Regions from separate parts of the Homo sapiens genome. Here region 2 is linked to region 1. A link means that fine-mapping ties the variant in region 1 to the expression of a gene that starts in the linked region. Tissue or cell type: whole blood. Region 1 holds a variant in brackets; the other region holds the start of a gene. All regions are shown on one strand. Distances are between the middles of the regions.

Evidence for each region. PIP is the estimated chance that this variant, and not a neighbour inherited with it, causes the effect.
Region 2: ARHGEF3 starts here. The variant in region 1 is fine-mapped to the expression of ARHGEF3 in whole blood (INTERVAL, PIP 0.98).

The regions. Positions count from the first base shown.
Region 1 is chr3:56,756,439-56,764,639 of GRCh38, forward strand. All of the region lies in intron 2 of ARHGEF3 (Rho guanine nucleotide exchange factor 3), which reads right to left. Among named protein-coding and RNA genes, the nearest start is that of ARHGEF3, 41 kb to the right of the region's middle. RefSeq lists an enhancer at 6,514-7,391. The variant A/G (reference allele first, on the strand shown) is at 3,531.
Region 2 is chr3:56,798,709-56,806,872 of GRCh38, forward strand. ARHGEF3 (Rho guanine nucleotide exchange factor 3) reads right to left here and starts at 3,241. Exons shown (of 10, transcript NM_019555.3): 1 at 2,995-3,241. The coding sequence starts at 3,090. RefSeq lists an enhancer at 827-876 and a silencer at 3,241-3,410.

The sequences.
Region 1 (8,201 bases):
CTAGGCTATCTGTCATTCCCTAAATATGTCATGCTTTGCCATCCCTCTGTACTCCCTTCAAACAATCTTCTCTTCCTGGAATGTGTTTCCATCACTTCATAGCTGGCTTTTTTTTTTTTTTTTTTTTTTGAGACAGAGTCTTGCTCTGTCGCCCAGGCTGGAGTACAGTGGTGCGATCTCGGCTCACTGCAAGCCCCGCCTCCTGGGTTCACGCCACTCTCTTGCTTCAGCCTCCTGAGTAGCTGGGCCTACAGGCGCCCGCCACCACGCCCGGCTAATTTTTTGTATTTTCAGTAGAGACAGGGTTTCACCATGTTAGCCAGGATGCTCTCGATTTCCTGACCTCGTGATCCGCCCGCCTCGGCCTCCCGAAGTGCTGGAATTACAGGCATGAGCCACTGTGTCCGGCCATAGCTGGCTAACTCTTAACTGCCCTCGGGATGTAACTCAAACAGCACCTCCTCTAAGAAGTCTTCACCAACATTCTCCCATCCTCCTCCCCCAGAGCAATTCAGACATACTTCTGATATAGCAATGATCATACTTGATTATAATTATTGGTCACCTGCTCTTAACTAGAAACTTCCTGAGGTCAGGAATTGAATTTGCTTATGACATATGAGCCTTCATCACAAAGGCATTCTAAGGTAGTTCCCAGTTATTTTGAGATTCAACAATAAAATTCCAGAAAGTAAAGAAAAATTTTAAAAGGAACTATTCAACATAAGGGCATTGTTAAATAAGTTGTAAGTGGCTGGGCACAGTGGCTCACGCCTGTAATCCCAGCACTTTGGGAAGCCGAGGTGGGTGGGTCACCTGAGGTCAGCAGTTTGACACCAGCCTGGCCAACATGGTGAAACCCCGTCTCTACTAAAAGTACAAAAATTAGCCGGGGCGTGGTGGCATGTGCCTGTAATCCCAGCTACTCAGGAGGCTGAGGCAGGAGAATCGCTTGAACCCAGGAGGCGGAGATTGCAGTGAGCCAAGATCGTGCCACTGCACTCCAGTCTGGGCGACAAGAGTGAGACTCCGTCTCAGAAAAAAAAAAAAGTTATAATTACCTGCTGGATGGAATATTATCTAGACAATTCAGAGATAATTTAAAATGTAAACACCCCTTCTATGTAGCCTAAAATAAAATCAGGATTAAAAATCTATATGTGAACATTTTATAGTTATGCAAAAAATGCACATGAGCAAAGATATAAAGGGAACATCACAAAATTCTATTGTTGTTTCATGTTGACATTATGAGTGATTTCTGTCCTCCTTTATATATTTTTAGCCTTTTTTTTTTGTTTTGAGATGGAGTCTTGCTCTGTCGCCCAGGCTGGTGTGCAGTGGCGCAGTCTCAGCTCACTGCAAGCTCCGCCTCCCGGGTTCACACCATTCTCCTGCCTCAGCCTCCCAAGTAGCTGGGACTACAGGCACCTGCCACCACGCCCGGCTAATTTTTTGTATTTTTAGAAAAGACGGGGTTTCACTGTGTTAGCCAGGGTGGTCTCCATCTCCTGACCTCGTGATCCGCCCGCCTCGGCCTCCCAAAGTGTCTAAAATGGCCGGGCGTGGTGGCTCACGCCTGTAATCCCAGCACTTTGGGAGGCTGAGGCGGGCGGATCACCTGAGGTCAGGAGTTCAAGACCAGCCTGAACAACATGGTGAAACCCTGTCTTTATTAAAAATACAAAAAAAATTAGCTGGACGTGATGGTAGGTGCCTGTAATCCCAGCTACTTGGGAAGCTGAGGCAGAAGAATTGCTTGAACCCGTGAAGTGGAGATTGTAGTAAGCTGAGATTGCGCCACTGTACTCCAGCCTGGGCGACAGAGCAAGACTCCCTCTAAAGGAAAAAAAAAAAAATAGAAAATGAGGCGGGGCTTGGTGGCTCATGTCTGTAATCCCAGTTCTTCGGGAAGCCAAGGCAGGCGGATGGCTTGAGCTGAGGAGTTCGAGACCACTCTGGGCAACGTAGCAAGACCTCATTTCAGTTCTAAATTAAAAAAATATATATAGATATATATGTAAGAATAAATGAAAAATGTAAAAAGAAACTTCCAAAGAGCTTCAGGGTATTACCACAACCTTCTGGAAGCAGGACGCTCACTCTGCAAGTAGCAACACAAGCCCCTTAGGCTGGCACAAGTAGTGGGGGTGCTCCTGGGCTCACTAATGAGCTCATGATGGCTGGACCAGCCCTATGCAGGTCAAGAAAGTACTTGCACCAAATACACAGTTCACTAATGGTATCTTACAAATCCTTGTGATCTCTTAAAAACAGTCCCTTGTAAACAGTAACCAGGAACTAAATGCACACAGATCGCCAGCACTCGGAATCAATTAGCCACAAGCATTAAAAGGTCAAAACAAGTGCAGTGAGTCATTAAGTAACTTGCTCAACCCAGTTTGCAGTTCTGATGGCAGCTGAGTTAAGAATTAAAGAGCAGAAAGAAAGGAAACACACACAAAAACTTCAAAATGAAAGTTTCCACTTTCACTTGAGAGAATCAACCTCCTATCCTGTTATATTTTCAGTCCTTGGCTAACTTTAAACTCCCCCTACCAGTTTGAAAATAATGTATGCTAACTTTAAATTCTCATACATTACAAAAGTATATAAAATTAAGTACAAATGCCCTCATTTCCCCAAGTCTATCTCCTAGAAGTAACAACTGTTAAGTTTGTTCTAGCTCTTTCCAAACTTTTTCCATGCATTTGTTAACATTCATAGAAAACTGAATTTTTTTTTTTTTTTTTTTTTGAGATGGAGTCTCGCTCTGTCGCCCAGGCTGGAGTGCAGTGGCACGATCTCGGCTCACTGCAAGCTCTGCCTATTGGGTTCACACCATTCTCCTGCCTCAGCCTCCCAAGTAGCTGGGACTACAGGAGCCCGCCACCAGGCCCAGCTAATTTTTTTGTATTTTTAGTAGAGATGGGGTTTCACCATGTTGGTCTCGATCTCCTGACCTCGTGATCCGCCTGCCTTGGCCTCCCGAAGTGCTGGGATTACAGGCGTGAGCCTCCGCGCCTGGCCGAGAATGTTTTCTCTTTCTACTTGACAGTATCTTGAGGTGAAATTTACATAACTCAATTACTTTTTCGTTGTTGTTTTTTTGGAGATGGGTCTTGCTCTGTTGCCCATACTGGAGTGCAGTGGTGCAACCATATCTCACTGTAACCTCAAACTCATGGGCTCAAGTGATGCTTCCACCTCAATCTCTTGAGTAGCTGAGATTATAGATGAGTGCCACCGCTAAGCAAGTGCCTGGCTAACTTTTGTATTTTTGATTTAGTAGACATGGGGTCTTGCTGTGTTGCCCAGGTTGGTCTTGAACTTCTGGTCTCAAGAGATCCTCCCGCCTCAGCCTCCCAAACTGCTGGGATTACAGGCATGAGCCACTGTGCCCAGCCTACAATTAACCATTTTTTAGTGAACAATTCAGTGCTATTTAGTATATTCACAAGGTTGTACAACTACCATCTCTATTTAGTTCCAAAACATTTCCATTACCTCAAATTCACGTATTCTTTTTA[A/G]TGGCTGCAGAATTAGTATCCCTCCCATAGTCTGGACAGACCTATTGATTTAATCAATCCACAACTGATGGACATTAAAATTGTTTCCAGTGTCTGGCTATTACAAAAAGTGCCTCAGTGAACATGCTTTGTGTATTTGTGCTGATACTTCTAAAAGGCAGGAATTCCTTAAGTGGAATTCCTTGGTCTAAGAAGTATGAACATTTTAATGTTTGAGATGTACCACTAAGTTGACCTCCAAATAGGCTATTCAACTTTATATTCCTCAGATAGGTACATAATAGTACACTTTGCTCACACTCTCATCAACAAGGTATTATTATCAATCTGATAGGTTAAACAACTATACCTTAATTTCAGTTTTGTGTTTTGAAGGTAAGATTGAGCATATTTTAATTAATTTATTTAAAAATTTCCCAGAGAGTTGGAGATTGTCTTCTGCTGCGGCATGGGAAAAAAGAGAGCAGTAAGCTGTACTAGGTGAGCTCTACCACTATGAATTTCTTGCTTTGCGTTTCCCTAGTGATTGCTGGGCTCAGGGTACTATGGGGGATATCACAGAGGGTCTTTTATGCGCTTTGCCTACACGTAGCACTTCTGATATATTCTCTCTGATTCTCACAACCACCCTGCAAGTTGGGGGTTTATTCCCATTCTACTGAGGAGGAAACTGAGGTTGAGGGAGGCTAAGATTCAAAACCAGATCTGGTTCCAACAGAGCCTGAGCTCTTTCTACTTTGGGGACTGCATCTACTGTTTACATGCAAGACATGCATTTTGGGGAAGTTTCAATGAGATGGGATCCAGCTCCTGCCTTCTAGGAATATAAATCTACTTAAGGAAAGAGAGAGAATACATTTGCTCAGTTTTAGGAATAATGGCTGATATCTGACCAATCAAATTTCAAATTTACACCTTTAATTAGGCTGGATTAAAAGAAACATTTTTTCTTACTCCACTCAGAAGGGACTGGATGTTGAAAGAAGAATCCCAAGGGAGGAATAAAGAATGCCAACCATTTGTCCAGGTGAGGTTACTGACACCTGTAAGTCTAGCAATTTGACAGGCTGAGATGGGAGGATTACCTGAGGCCAGGAGTTTGAAACCAGCCTGGGCAATGTAGCAAGACCCTGTCTCTATAAAAAAGAATAATAATAAAAGAATACCAAACCAGTGAGTGGTCAGCAGCCGTCTGGCCCCGGGGAAAAGGGGCAGCAGCTGGTATGGTCTGGGGACAGCACATGGGTGATGGGCAGGTGTTCATAACAGCACTGACCACATACCATGAGCTACCCCTGAACCCATCATCAGTACCACTGGGAAAAACTACATGAGAGAACTAGAGTTGAGGGAGGAACAGGCAACTACTACTAGAAGAAAAAAACTCCAAGAGGATGCCTCTTTAGAGAGAAGAACAGCCACATCCCTATCAGCATCCCTGCCACTGTCCATCTACACACCCTCTGCCCTTCTCTTTTTTTTTTATATTCAACATGTGCTGTATTTATAGGTTTGTTTGTTTCTTTCATGTCTATTTCCTTCCAATAGAAGGTAAACTCCTTGAAGGCAGGCATATCTACCTCCTCTATTCACTGATGGATTCATCAGCAACTGATATAGTAAGACCTCAACAACTTTTGCTTAATGATTAAATGTTATGCTTGCTATGTGCTGGGCACTGTGAGGGGAGCTTTAGAGCCCTGCTTATCTGAGAGGTAAGGATTCTGTCCCCTTTACAGACAAGGAAACTTGAGGCTCAGAGAAGGTGACACTTTGCTGAAGGTCACACAGCTAATGAATGGTGCTTTATTATTTAAAACCCGGTGGTAAGGTGACTGTCAGAATGACAATCCAAGTCTGGTCTATTTCAGGCCAACCTCCCTGCCCCAATATTTAACCAATATCCTACCCTAATTGCCCTAGGATAAGATTCATAGTGTAGCGGGGTACATGTGCCCAAATAAATGAACTGTAGTTTACTTCTTGGCCTGTAGAAAGTTTCTCAACCTGGCCACCACAACATTTTGGACTAGAGATTCTTTATTGTGGGAGGCTCTCCTGTGCATTGTAGGATATTTCGCATCATCTTTGCCCTCTAACCACCAGATGCCAGCAGCACAGCCAGCCCAGTTATGACAACCAAAACACCTCCAGACATTGCCAAATGTTCCTGGGGTGAGAAACGCCAGTCCACGGTAACTAGAAGAGGCCCACCTCAAAGTGAGGGACCTGGCCTTGGGCAGGACCACATAAAAACAGAAGCACATACATAGATCTCCCTGGGTGTGGGGATGCTGGGACCGGAGTGAAAAATATTCCAGGACAAGCAAGAGTTTCCATGAGGGAATCTGGCCTAGCAAATGAGTCAAAAACTGCAATCTCATAATTGCTGGCAGCTAAAACAACAATGACCATAAAACAGAGATAATGCAGATTGAGGAAATGGTGCTCAAGTTTATGCCCAAGCTGGATATGTGGAAAAGATGCTGCAGATGCAAAACAGACTGTCTGCCGGGGGTTGGGGGACGGGGGTGGCATGTGCGCTTTACACGTGTCAGAGGAAATGTAAACCCAGCAGGTAGACATGATGGGACAGATCTGATTTGTTAATGCCGCCTGTTCAGCGGAGTCCTCCCTTGCCCTTTTCCAAAAACCATTTTCCACAGCCACAGATAACATGCTCCAATAAAGTATTCAAGCCAAGGAAATTCTCCACACTTACCATGCTAACCATATTGCTATTTTGTAGCAGATGGTTTATTATCAGGGATTGGAGGTTGGGGTGGGACTGTAAGAGGAAAAAACTCTCCTATGTTGCCACTGCGGTGGGTTAAACCAAAATGTACAGCAATAATGGCCAGGACAGGAAAATGTTAACCAACAGCATCCTGGAGGAGTCTCCTATGAGGCTCCATTACAGAAATTAATGTTAAGTGAGAAGTAACACTTCCCAGCTGTGTGGTCTCTGTCACATTTGACCCTCATGCTAATCCTAGGAGAGGATGAGTAATTTGAGTAGCAGAGTGGTAAGTGAGTGGCACAAGTTAAGTGTTGGAATAGGAACTGAGTGCAATTGTTTGACTCCAAAACATGGATTTGGGTGAAGAACATAGGCTTTGGAGTAAAACAGGCATGGCTTCAAGTTGATTCAATGGCTGAGAGACCTTTCATCTCTCTGGGTCTCAGTTTCCTCATCTCTAAAAGGTGCATAATAATAAGTACCTCACAAAGTTGTAGTGAGGATTGGATAAGATAAAGTACACAAGAGGCTTGGCCAAGTCCCTGGCACTCGGTCAGCAGGAATGGTAGTTACCTATCATTGTCATACCACAGACCACACTGCCACTATTAGTGCTTGTTTATACGTGCTTTCATTAATTAGCAAACAGCAGACACATCTTTCTGAACTACCTGGGCCAAATGGCTCCTAGAGGGACTTCCATTAGGATAACTCCTAGGGAAAGAAAAGCCCTCAGCAGGACACTGTTGTTTATAAAAGATCTGGAAACAGCCTAAAATGTTCTACAATAGGGATTAAACAAATTACTCTGCAACAATAAAAGGGAACCTTAAACAGTTGTTAAGAAACATTCTTTTTGAGAAAAGCTTAATGATAAGGAGAGAGCCTCACATGCAGAGTTAAGTGAGAGAAGAAAGATCCCAATTTGAAATACAACAAAATGTTAACAAGGTTTACACCCCTGGATGGTGGGACTACGGATAATTTTTGTTTTCTTTTTAAAATTTTATTTATTTTTAATTTTTTGATTTTATTTTATTTTTTTTTGTAGGGACAGGGCCTTACTATATTGCCCAGGCTAGTCTTGAACTCCTGGCCTCAAGCAATCCTCTTGTTTCAGCCTCACAAAGTGATGGAATTACAGGTGTGAGCCACTGCACCTGGCTGATTTTTATTTTCATCTTTTAATTCTCTACATTTATTTTCCAGACTTTCTTTAATGAAGAAATATTAACTAAGAAGAAACACGGTCAGTTGACGAACATGAAAGACAATGAACACTGAGTTAGAAATGGTGCAATAAACATAAAACCACATATTTACAATCTGATTCAGATTGATGCACATTAAAACCATGGTAAAAGGGCACCCAATTAATTCATAATCAATAAATGTCAAACCTCAAAGACCCAGTACAACAAGAAACCCTTCTGTAGCTTGGAGATATTCTGAGTAGAATGAATGAAAAGCTGAAGAAAATATTTGGCTTAGGTGTAGAGAAAATATTATACAATTTGCATAGTGCAAGTCCAAAATTAGGAAGGCTTCCAGAGGCTTGGGGCAGTAGCTCAACCATCTTCATTGGGCACCATAAAATGGCTTTTGCATGAGAATGTTAATGACAAGATATTCCACAAGCTGAAATGGAAATGATGACTCTCCCTGCCACAGAAGGTGAACAGCAGTGAGGTGGGATGCTCCAACTCAAAAGTCTGGTGACTATTTTTAAATCCTGCCAAACTTCAGGCTTTATTATGACCAAACTTTGACTTTTTGTGATAAGCCTACGGCAGGAGAGGCACTCTGAACACCCTACGGAATCCCAGCTCTGGCACTTACCAGCTGTGTGACCTTGGGTACAATTTTAAACTTTCAGATCTCTCCCTATAAGTGGTGATGAATCCTATCTTGCAGAGTTTTGGAGAAGACGA
Region 2 (8,164 bases), 42 kb after region 1:
GAAGTAGATGACCAATAAATACAAAAACAGATAAACTGAACAAAGCTGCATCAAAGATCAGAAGAAATAAACTTAATGCTCGTATCATATCACATTTTTCTGTGAAATTCTAGAGCCATGAACTAAGCTCCTTAGATTTCACAATTAATGATTACAGCCAGCAGGACCTCACTGATTATGGATATTAAAATTAAACATTTGCCAACCAATTCAAACCCCCATGTCATAAGAAATAGCAGATTAAGAGGCAGTATTATACTAACAGACATGCAATATTATAATCCCTGTAGAATATTTTCAAAAGCTTAAAATAGATCTTTTAAAGAAAATAAAAATACATTTTAAAAATATCATTTTTTGCTTTCACTGGAAACTACCACAAATAAAAAATTACAAATCACTTAAATCTTGAGTAGAAATTTTATTTGCTTTTAAGAGAATGCTTATTTTTGCATATTTTTTTACTCAGTGTACGGTATCAAATGCACATCAATGCCACTTGCCTGTTCCCCAGGAGCCTTTTCCTAAGTGATTTTCCCCAGTACACTTGCTGCAAGGATAGGAGTCAATGCTAGAAGGCACTTCCCAGTGCCATGCTGTGTGCACTGTCCTACCCAAGGCAAATTCGGAAGGAACAGCCATTACACACGGCCATTAAATGTTTAAAGGGCACAGGTGCTCTGTTGCAACGGCCTTTGAAGGTCAACAAGTCCTGTTTTCCTAGAAAGGCCTCTGGATAGATCTATTTTTCTTTTTATTATAACCACATTCTTTCCACAAAGAAAACAATCACTCTTAAAAAAATACTTTCAGAGGAATTAACAGTCAATGCCTAGCTTATAAACAATTATATAATCATGTTTTTCAAAAGGCTGACAAGCGAATGCTATTTTTTAATTTATGAATACTGACGACACCTACTGGTGGAAAATATATTTTAGTTAACTGCTTATGGAGAAGCTAGGCCTACAAGGGTTGGCTGCCTTTTGCGCTGATAAGGAAACCAGAAAACTACCCACTAAACTCACTTAGGTTTCTTTTTCCAATTTTGCCAATTTCCATTATCAGGAAGTGATATGCTCATCGATGAAGCTAAAAGATATCTCTGCCTCAAAGTGTATAAAGCATACTTGATTTAGTGTTTAAATCAAACACTAAAAAACAAAAACCCCAATAGTGATATCTGAAAAATATTTACCAACTATTTCCAAAACTATTCCAACCCCTTCCTTATTTCTCACATCAGGATATCCCCATACGAGGAAAATAAGTCATATTTTATAGTCTAGATCCAGCTACCAATGAAGAAAATTAATATTTGACATGTGATAAGTTTCATATTTGTGATATATAGACATATCTATATTCTATGTATAAGAATAAAATGAAATTAAGCAGGCAAGTTTTACCTAAGCCTTTAGCTAAACTACTCAAAAACACAGGACTAAGTAATAGTAGGAAGGGACTGGTTAGAGTCCTCAGCTATCCTCACTATTCTTTTCTTTGGCCCACTTCAATTTATTAATTTATTGGTTATGCCTTTCTTCCTTACAAGTGGAGTTTGAGTGGGCACCAATTGCGCTGCTCCTATGTTGATTAAATTAGGAAGTTCCCACTGAAAAAATATTATATCCATTCCAGGCCTGACCAACCTGAATTCTATGCAAATGCCACTAGGGCCATCACACTTTCACAGCTGCTGGCAACAAAAACTCTTTGTGATAATATTCGACTGAGCTGGAGTGTAGGGTTGGGTTTGAGTGAGGGAGAAGTTAGTTTGTGCTCAGCGTATAGAAAGCTGAATACAACCAGAGACTGCTTGGAGTCCTGTCAGCCTGGAGCAGCTCTTGCTAGAGGAAATGAATCTTTGATGGTGTGCTCCCGAATATACATGATTCAGTGAGCCAAGTGCATACAGCTGAGCAGACCCAAGGAAGGCGAGTGGGTGGAACCTCAAGAATGCTGTGACAAGGCCGGATGCACACCTGCCTTCAGCCTTTCCCCAGTGGTGGTGGTGATGTTTGATGTTCGCAGAGTGAGGTGTGGGAGAGTGGAAAGCTCCCAGATACACGCATGAGCGGCAATGACTAGCTGGGTCCTGTGGGTTCCACCGCAGCTTGACCACAGCAAAGCTGTAATCTAGCGAAAGCGACTGTATTCCCTAAGACCCTCAAAGAGAGGGATGCTTTCTCCTCCAGCTGAACCCAACCTTTAAGGCCAGTGAGCTATGTGCCAGAGAAATAACACGCAAGAGGAAAAGGCAGACTAAACATAACCTGGGAGCACTCCTTCACATCGCCCGCAAGGCACAGGAAAGTTCCCAGAAAGAGAAATGTTTCCAATGTTCCAAGGCAGCTTTCCATTGACCCTAAGGACTTTAATTCATTTTCAAGATCCATGTGGGAGACACTCCAATTTACTCATTTAGCCCCAGCCCCCCGGCTGAATGACCCTCACTGGCCACAGGTGATAGGCAGAGGCGCTGTGTCCTGTTTTTGCTGCCAAAGGGCTGCAAGGCCAAGTCTGACAGGTGAGAGGGCTGGTACGTCCCTCTGCTCTCACAACCCAGGCAAAAAAAACTCGCTTAAAGGGTAGCGACACTGGGGCTTGCTGACACTTCCCTGACACTGGGGCTTGCTGACAGTAGGAGAAAGTCCCTCTGAGAGTCCAGACAGAAGATGGACAGTCTGAGAGCCCTGCAAAGGCAAGGAGGCAGTTGCTCCCAGACCGGCAGGTAGAGGGACAGGGAGAGAGGAGGCAGCTAGTGCTTGGTCCACAGAGAAAAAGCGAGAGAAAAGGAGACAGGGTGAGAGATGGCGACGGGGAGACACAAAGAAGACTGTGGGAGAGATGTAGAGAGAGAAAGTGGCACACACGGAGAGTGAGAGATGGAAACAGAGACAGTGACACTGGACGGGCGCCGAGAATGGGAGATGGAGGCAGACGAGACAGGCAGATGACCCATAGAGGTCCAGGTGCAGGGCGCGGCCCTACCTCAGCGTCCTTGGCCGGACCGCTGGCCGGGGGTAGCTCCAGGCTGCAGTTCGCTCTCTTGACCGTGAGGTAGAAGGGGTAATCCTTGGCCACCATGGCGGCTGCCGGGCCTGCCCTTTGGGATGTCACCGCTGACCCTAGGCGACTACAAAACTCCCAGGCAAAAGGGGGCCCCAGCTCCACGATGCCGGGCGGCGGCGGCGACACGGAGACCGACAGCCGGCTTCTAGCCGGGCAGGACTCGACTGGGCTCCGGAGCCGAGTGGGCGGGACCGTGCCAGCCACGCCTTGATGGGTGGGGAGGGGGCGGGCCGCCGGCTCGGCACCGCCCCACGCTGCCGGGAGGGCCCACGTGCCGCAGCGCGGACACCTCCTGGGGCTGCGAGGGGCGTGGGGCGGTCCCGCGGGTGGAGAGGGACCTCTCTCTCCCCGCTGGTATTCGACTCCGGGCGCCCCCGCAGAGCGTGGGCCGCGATTGCGGGGCAGGCAGACCCCATGATAGCTCCTTTCGGGCTCTTTGGCACTCTCCGGGTGAAAGGCTGCTGGTAGAAAGGAGGCTGGGGCGAAACCGGGCAACGGGGAGAAAGGAGGCTGTAGTGACACCTGGAGGCAGGAAGGAGCCTGGGGGGAAAAGCGAGCGTTTTAAAAGCCCACATTAGAAAGGGGTGGTGTTCTCTCTTACCCTGTTCCCAGGCCACTGCACGTTTTTTTTGTTTTGTTTTGTTTTTGTTTGGTTTTTTAAATGAATGTCAGTGGAATATAATCTACAAATGGCAAAATGCACCCATTTTAAGAGTACCGTTTGTTGAGTTCTGACAAATGTAAACACCCGTATAACCACCTCCACAGTCGGTATACGAAACATTTCCACCACCCCCGGAAAATTCCCTCGAGACCTTTCCCACTTTGCACCAACTTTTAAATTTGACTAGCATATTCAGAGGCTGCCTGACACTCGAGGGCAATCTGACAGAGTGTCCTTCAAGTATAAAGCTGTGCATGGATGACCTGGCACTACCACACCTTTCTGGATCCTTTTTGGAGAAACAATGACATTATAAATGCCCAAGAAGGCGATTGATCTTAAGGTTGTTTGCAGCAGCCCTGTCTGGGGCAGTAAAAAATAAAAAATAACTGGAAACAATGGTAATATATCCATCAATAGGGAGTGCTTAAATAAACTTTCTTCACTGTGTAATACCGCTTAGCAGCAGTGAAAAAGGAGATGGGTCTATGGGTGTGGCATGGAAAGATCTCCAATGTATTAGACTCAGTTTAAAAATAATTGCAGACTAAGCATAATACAATACCATTTGTGTTAAAAAAAAATACAAGTTTACCAAAGAATATCATATATTTTCTATAAAGACATATTTGTGGGTAAATAGCATTGAACACTGTCTACAAGAATCCACAGCAAGCTTTTACCAGTTCCCCTGTGGCTGAAGGGAGGCACCTGGGTTTAAAGAATTAAAGATAGTGAACAAAAGGGACTTAAGCTTATAGCTCATGTTTTAAAATTTTTTATAAGAAAAATACAGCCTGGGCAGCAGTGAAACCCTGTGTCTACAAAAAAAATACAAAAAATTAGCCAGGGATGGTGGTGCACACCTGTAATCCCAACTACTCCAGAGGCTGAGGTGGGAGGATCACTTGAGCCTGGGAGGCAGAAGTTGCAGTGAGCCAAGATCATACCACTGCACTCCAGCCTGGGTGACAGAGACCCTGAGAAAAAATAAAAAAGAAAAGAAAAAAAGAAAGAAATAGAGGAAGGAAGAAAGGAAAAAGAAAAGAAAAGAAAAGAAAAAAGAAAAGATGGCTAGGTAGAGTGGCTCACACCTGTAATCCCAACACTTTGGAAGGCCAAGGCAGCAGTGTGGCTTGAGGCCAACAGTTCAAGACCAGCCTAAGCAACATAGCAAGACCCTGCCTCTACAAAAAAATTTAAAAATTAGCCAGGTATGGTAGTGCATGCCTGTAGTCTCAGCTAATCCCGAGGTTGAGGTGGGAGGATTCCTGAGCCCAAGAGTTCAAGGCTGTGGTGAGCTATGGTTGCACCACTGCACTCTAGCCTGGTGACAGAGTGAGACCCTGTCTCAAGAGAAAAAAAGAAAAATACCTTCATTCATGGCACTTCTTGGGAAATTATAGTTTTTTAAAATATTATAATTATCATATTTTCTTTCTTTTTTTTTTTTTTGAGATAGGGTCTTGCTTTGTTGCCCAGGCTGGAGTGTAGTGGCATGATCTTGGCTCACTGCAACCTTCTCCTCCTGGGCTCAAGTGATCTTTCCACCTCAGCCTCCCAAGTAGCTGGGACTACAGGCCTGGACCAGTGTGCCCAGCTAATTTTTGTATTTTTGTAGAGACAGGGTTTTGCCATGTTTGCCCAGGCTGGTCTCCAACCCCTGAGCTCAAGCAATCCACCTGCCTCAACCACCCAAAGTGCTGGGATTACAGGTGTAAGCCACCATGCCCAGCCCTAAAATGATCATCTCTCAAAAGTTATTTTGTAGACTGTACTGTTGAATCTTTTTCCTCCTCATGTGGAAAGTCATGACTACATCAGGTGGTGATCTATGGAGACACTATCTTTTGTTTTTACTTCCTGGGGATGCAGGGGATAGTGGGAATGGTGATATCCAGTCCCTGTTTGCGTGCTCTTTGCTTCTAGCTGAGGTCAGAACCCAGCAGTTCCTACTTCTCAGGCAGGACACCTCATAATACATAGCTCTTCATCCCAGGTATCAAATCCACACCCTCACACTAAATCCACTTACTTTCCTACCCAGCTAGTGCAGACAAACTGCCTTTGGAGGCAGAAAGAATTGGGCCCTGTGTAACCAGCCTGTTATTACCACACATGTAAATGAAGCTCCTGAATGGGTGGAGGTTCCAACTGAAATTGAAGAGAGCACCTGAGTTTTTTTCCCTCGATAGATAACCTGAAGCAATAGGAAGAAAACTGTCTCAGAAGAGGTATGGGGCAGGAAAGAGCACCTCAGAACCACTGATTTTTCCTATTTGTATTCCTGAACACAATTTTATCCTTTTAGCCTGAGCTGTGCTGATGGGGAGCTCACACAAGTGCTCCAAAAGCTTAGCCAAGCTTGGTGGGGGTGTGAGAGTAACCTCATCTCCAAGTAGCCCCTGATTAACTATGCAGCCAAAGGCAGGGCCAGAGGCAGTGACATGCGTCACTCAGGGCTTGTCTGGCCACCAAGAACCTGTGCCCAAGTACCCGAGCCACTTCTTATTCCTCTTTCTCTGCCTGCTCTTCTGGCCCTCACAGTCCACTATCTCAACTAGAACACATTTGCCATCAAAGCCACTGGCTTTGACTCCCAGAAGAGCTTGCTGGGCCGTGTTCTCAAGTTGGAAAATATACTTACAGCACTTGGTGAAGAAAATAGTCACCCTGGCGACGTCTGATAGCCCTGGGACTGGGTTGCTCATTGCAGTATCCTTAGGGCCAAGCAGGGAGTCTGACATACCATAAATCCAGTGTAACAGTAAACAAACCCTAAGAAATATGTTTATTTTATTTTTTTGAGACAGGTCTCACTTTGTTGCCCAGGCTGGAGTGCAGTGGCACAATCTTGGCTCACTGCAGCCTCAACCTCCTGGTCTCAAGCAATCCTCCCGCCTCAGCCCCTCAAGTAGCTGGGACTACAGGCACACGTCACCACGCCCAGCTAATTTTTATATTTTTTGTAGAGATGAGGTTTCACCATGTTGCTCAGGCTGGTCTTGAATTCCTGAGCTCAAGTGATCCACCCACCTCGGCCTCCCAAAGCGCTAGGATTACAAGCATAAGCCACTGTGCCTGGCCTCCGAAGAAATGTTAAAGTGCAACTTAGGTTGAAGCACAACTATTGCAGAGCAATGAACAGTCATATTGATTGATGAGAAGGCTGCCGTATCCATCTTCTCTTAAAACATTTCTTTGCTTTCCTTAAAATATACTGGAGCCATAAAAATCAATAAATACACAGGGCTACACAACATATATATGACAAACATACCTCTTTTCCACTATACATGCTAGGCAAAGAGAGACAGACAGAGGCAGAGAGATTACTAATGGCCTGTAACAATTTAAATAGTGCTATAAAAAAGCATAAGCTACAAAAGGAAAGATGGGAATCTGGAATTCTCTTGGGTGGTCTGATTCTTCCAAGCTTCTTATAGCACGAATGTCTCACCATCCAGAATAGGATTCTGGTGTTTAAATACAGATATTTTTGGTACAACAAAGCCTATAAACTCAAGCCAGCAATTTGGGGTGCATACAAGCCATGTATATGGTCCTTGAGGCATTTAACAAATTTTTCAGGAGTATTTTTTTTTAACTTCCATCAGTATATAGGTTAAGGTCAGGATTAGCTATTTCAGGAGTATTTCTGACCTCATGCAATTTCCACCTTGGTCCCTGACTTCAGCACCTTCCCCATATGTAATGCACTGCTCCACCATTGACAGATTGGGGTTTTAGGCAATCTGCCTGAGACACTATCTGGGGGTGTCCGTGAACAAAGACTGTCAGAAAACAGGCACCCCTGCAGGAGGGCCTCCAAGCATATCCCTAAGGTTAGTGTCACAGTTGAGGGAAGCTGGTCCAGTCCTGCAATGCCGCCAAGCTAAGTGGCCCCAGGAGCCCAGAGCTCCCCATTCTGCCTGTGTGTGTGTTTACGGGCTTAGGAACAACACTGCTCTAACAGGCAGCTTCACTCAAAGAAACGGCACAAAGTGTCTTTCAGAACTTGCCTTCGGCATAGCCCGTTATAATCCTATAAAATGCTTCACAGCCGGGCAGTGTTCCTTGCCAGCCAGAAGCCTGGAGACTGAAATAAAGAGGGCTGTTCTGCATTTGCAGGAACTGTGCCAAGCACAGGGCCTGTGGTCTTGCCTGTGTTGAGCGGGGGTCATTTGGGCTGCTGGTGGAATGGTAGGCCTGAATACAGAAGCCCACCACTGGTTATTAGCTCCTTTTAGACTTGCAGACAACCAGGCATGGCTTGGAGACCATCTGTCAACTCCTTAAATCCCAGTCCCATGACTGGGAGCAGAGCAGGCCTAGCCTGAGGATAAAACCAGAAGCTAACATGGCTGTGACAGCCTTCTCAGCCAACAGGACAATGCTTTGTCCTATTAGCGTTATATTTTAACA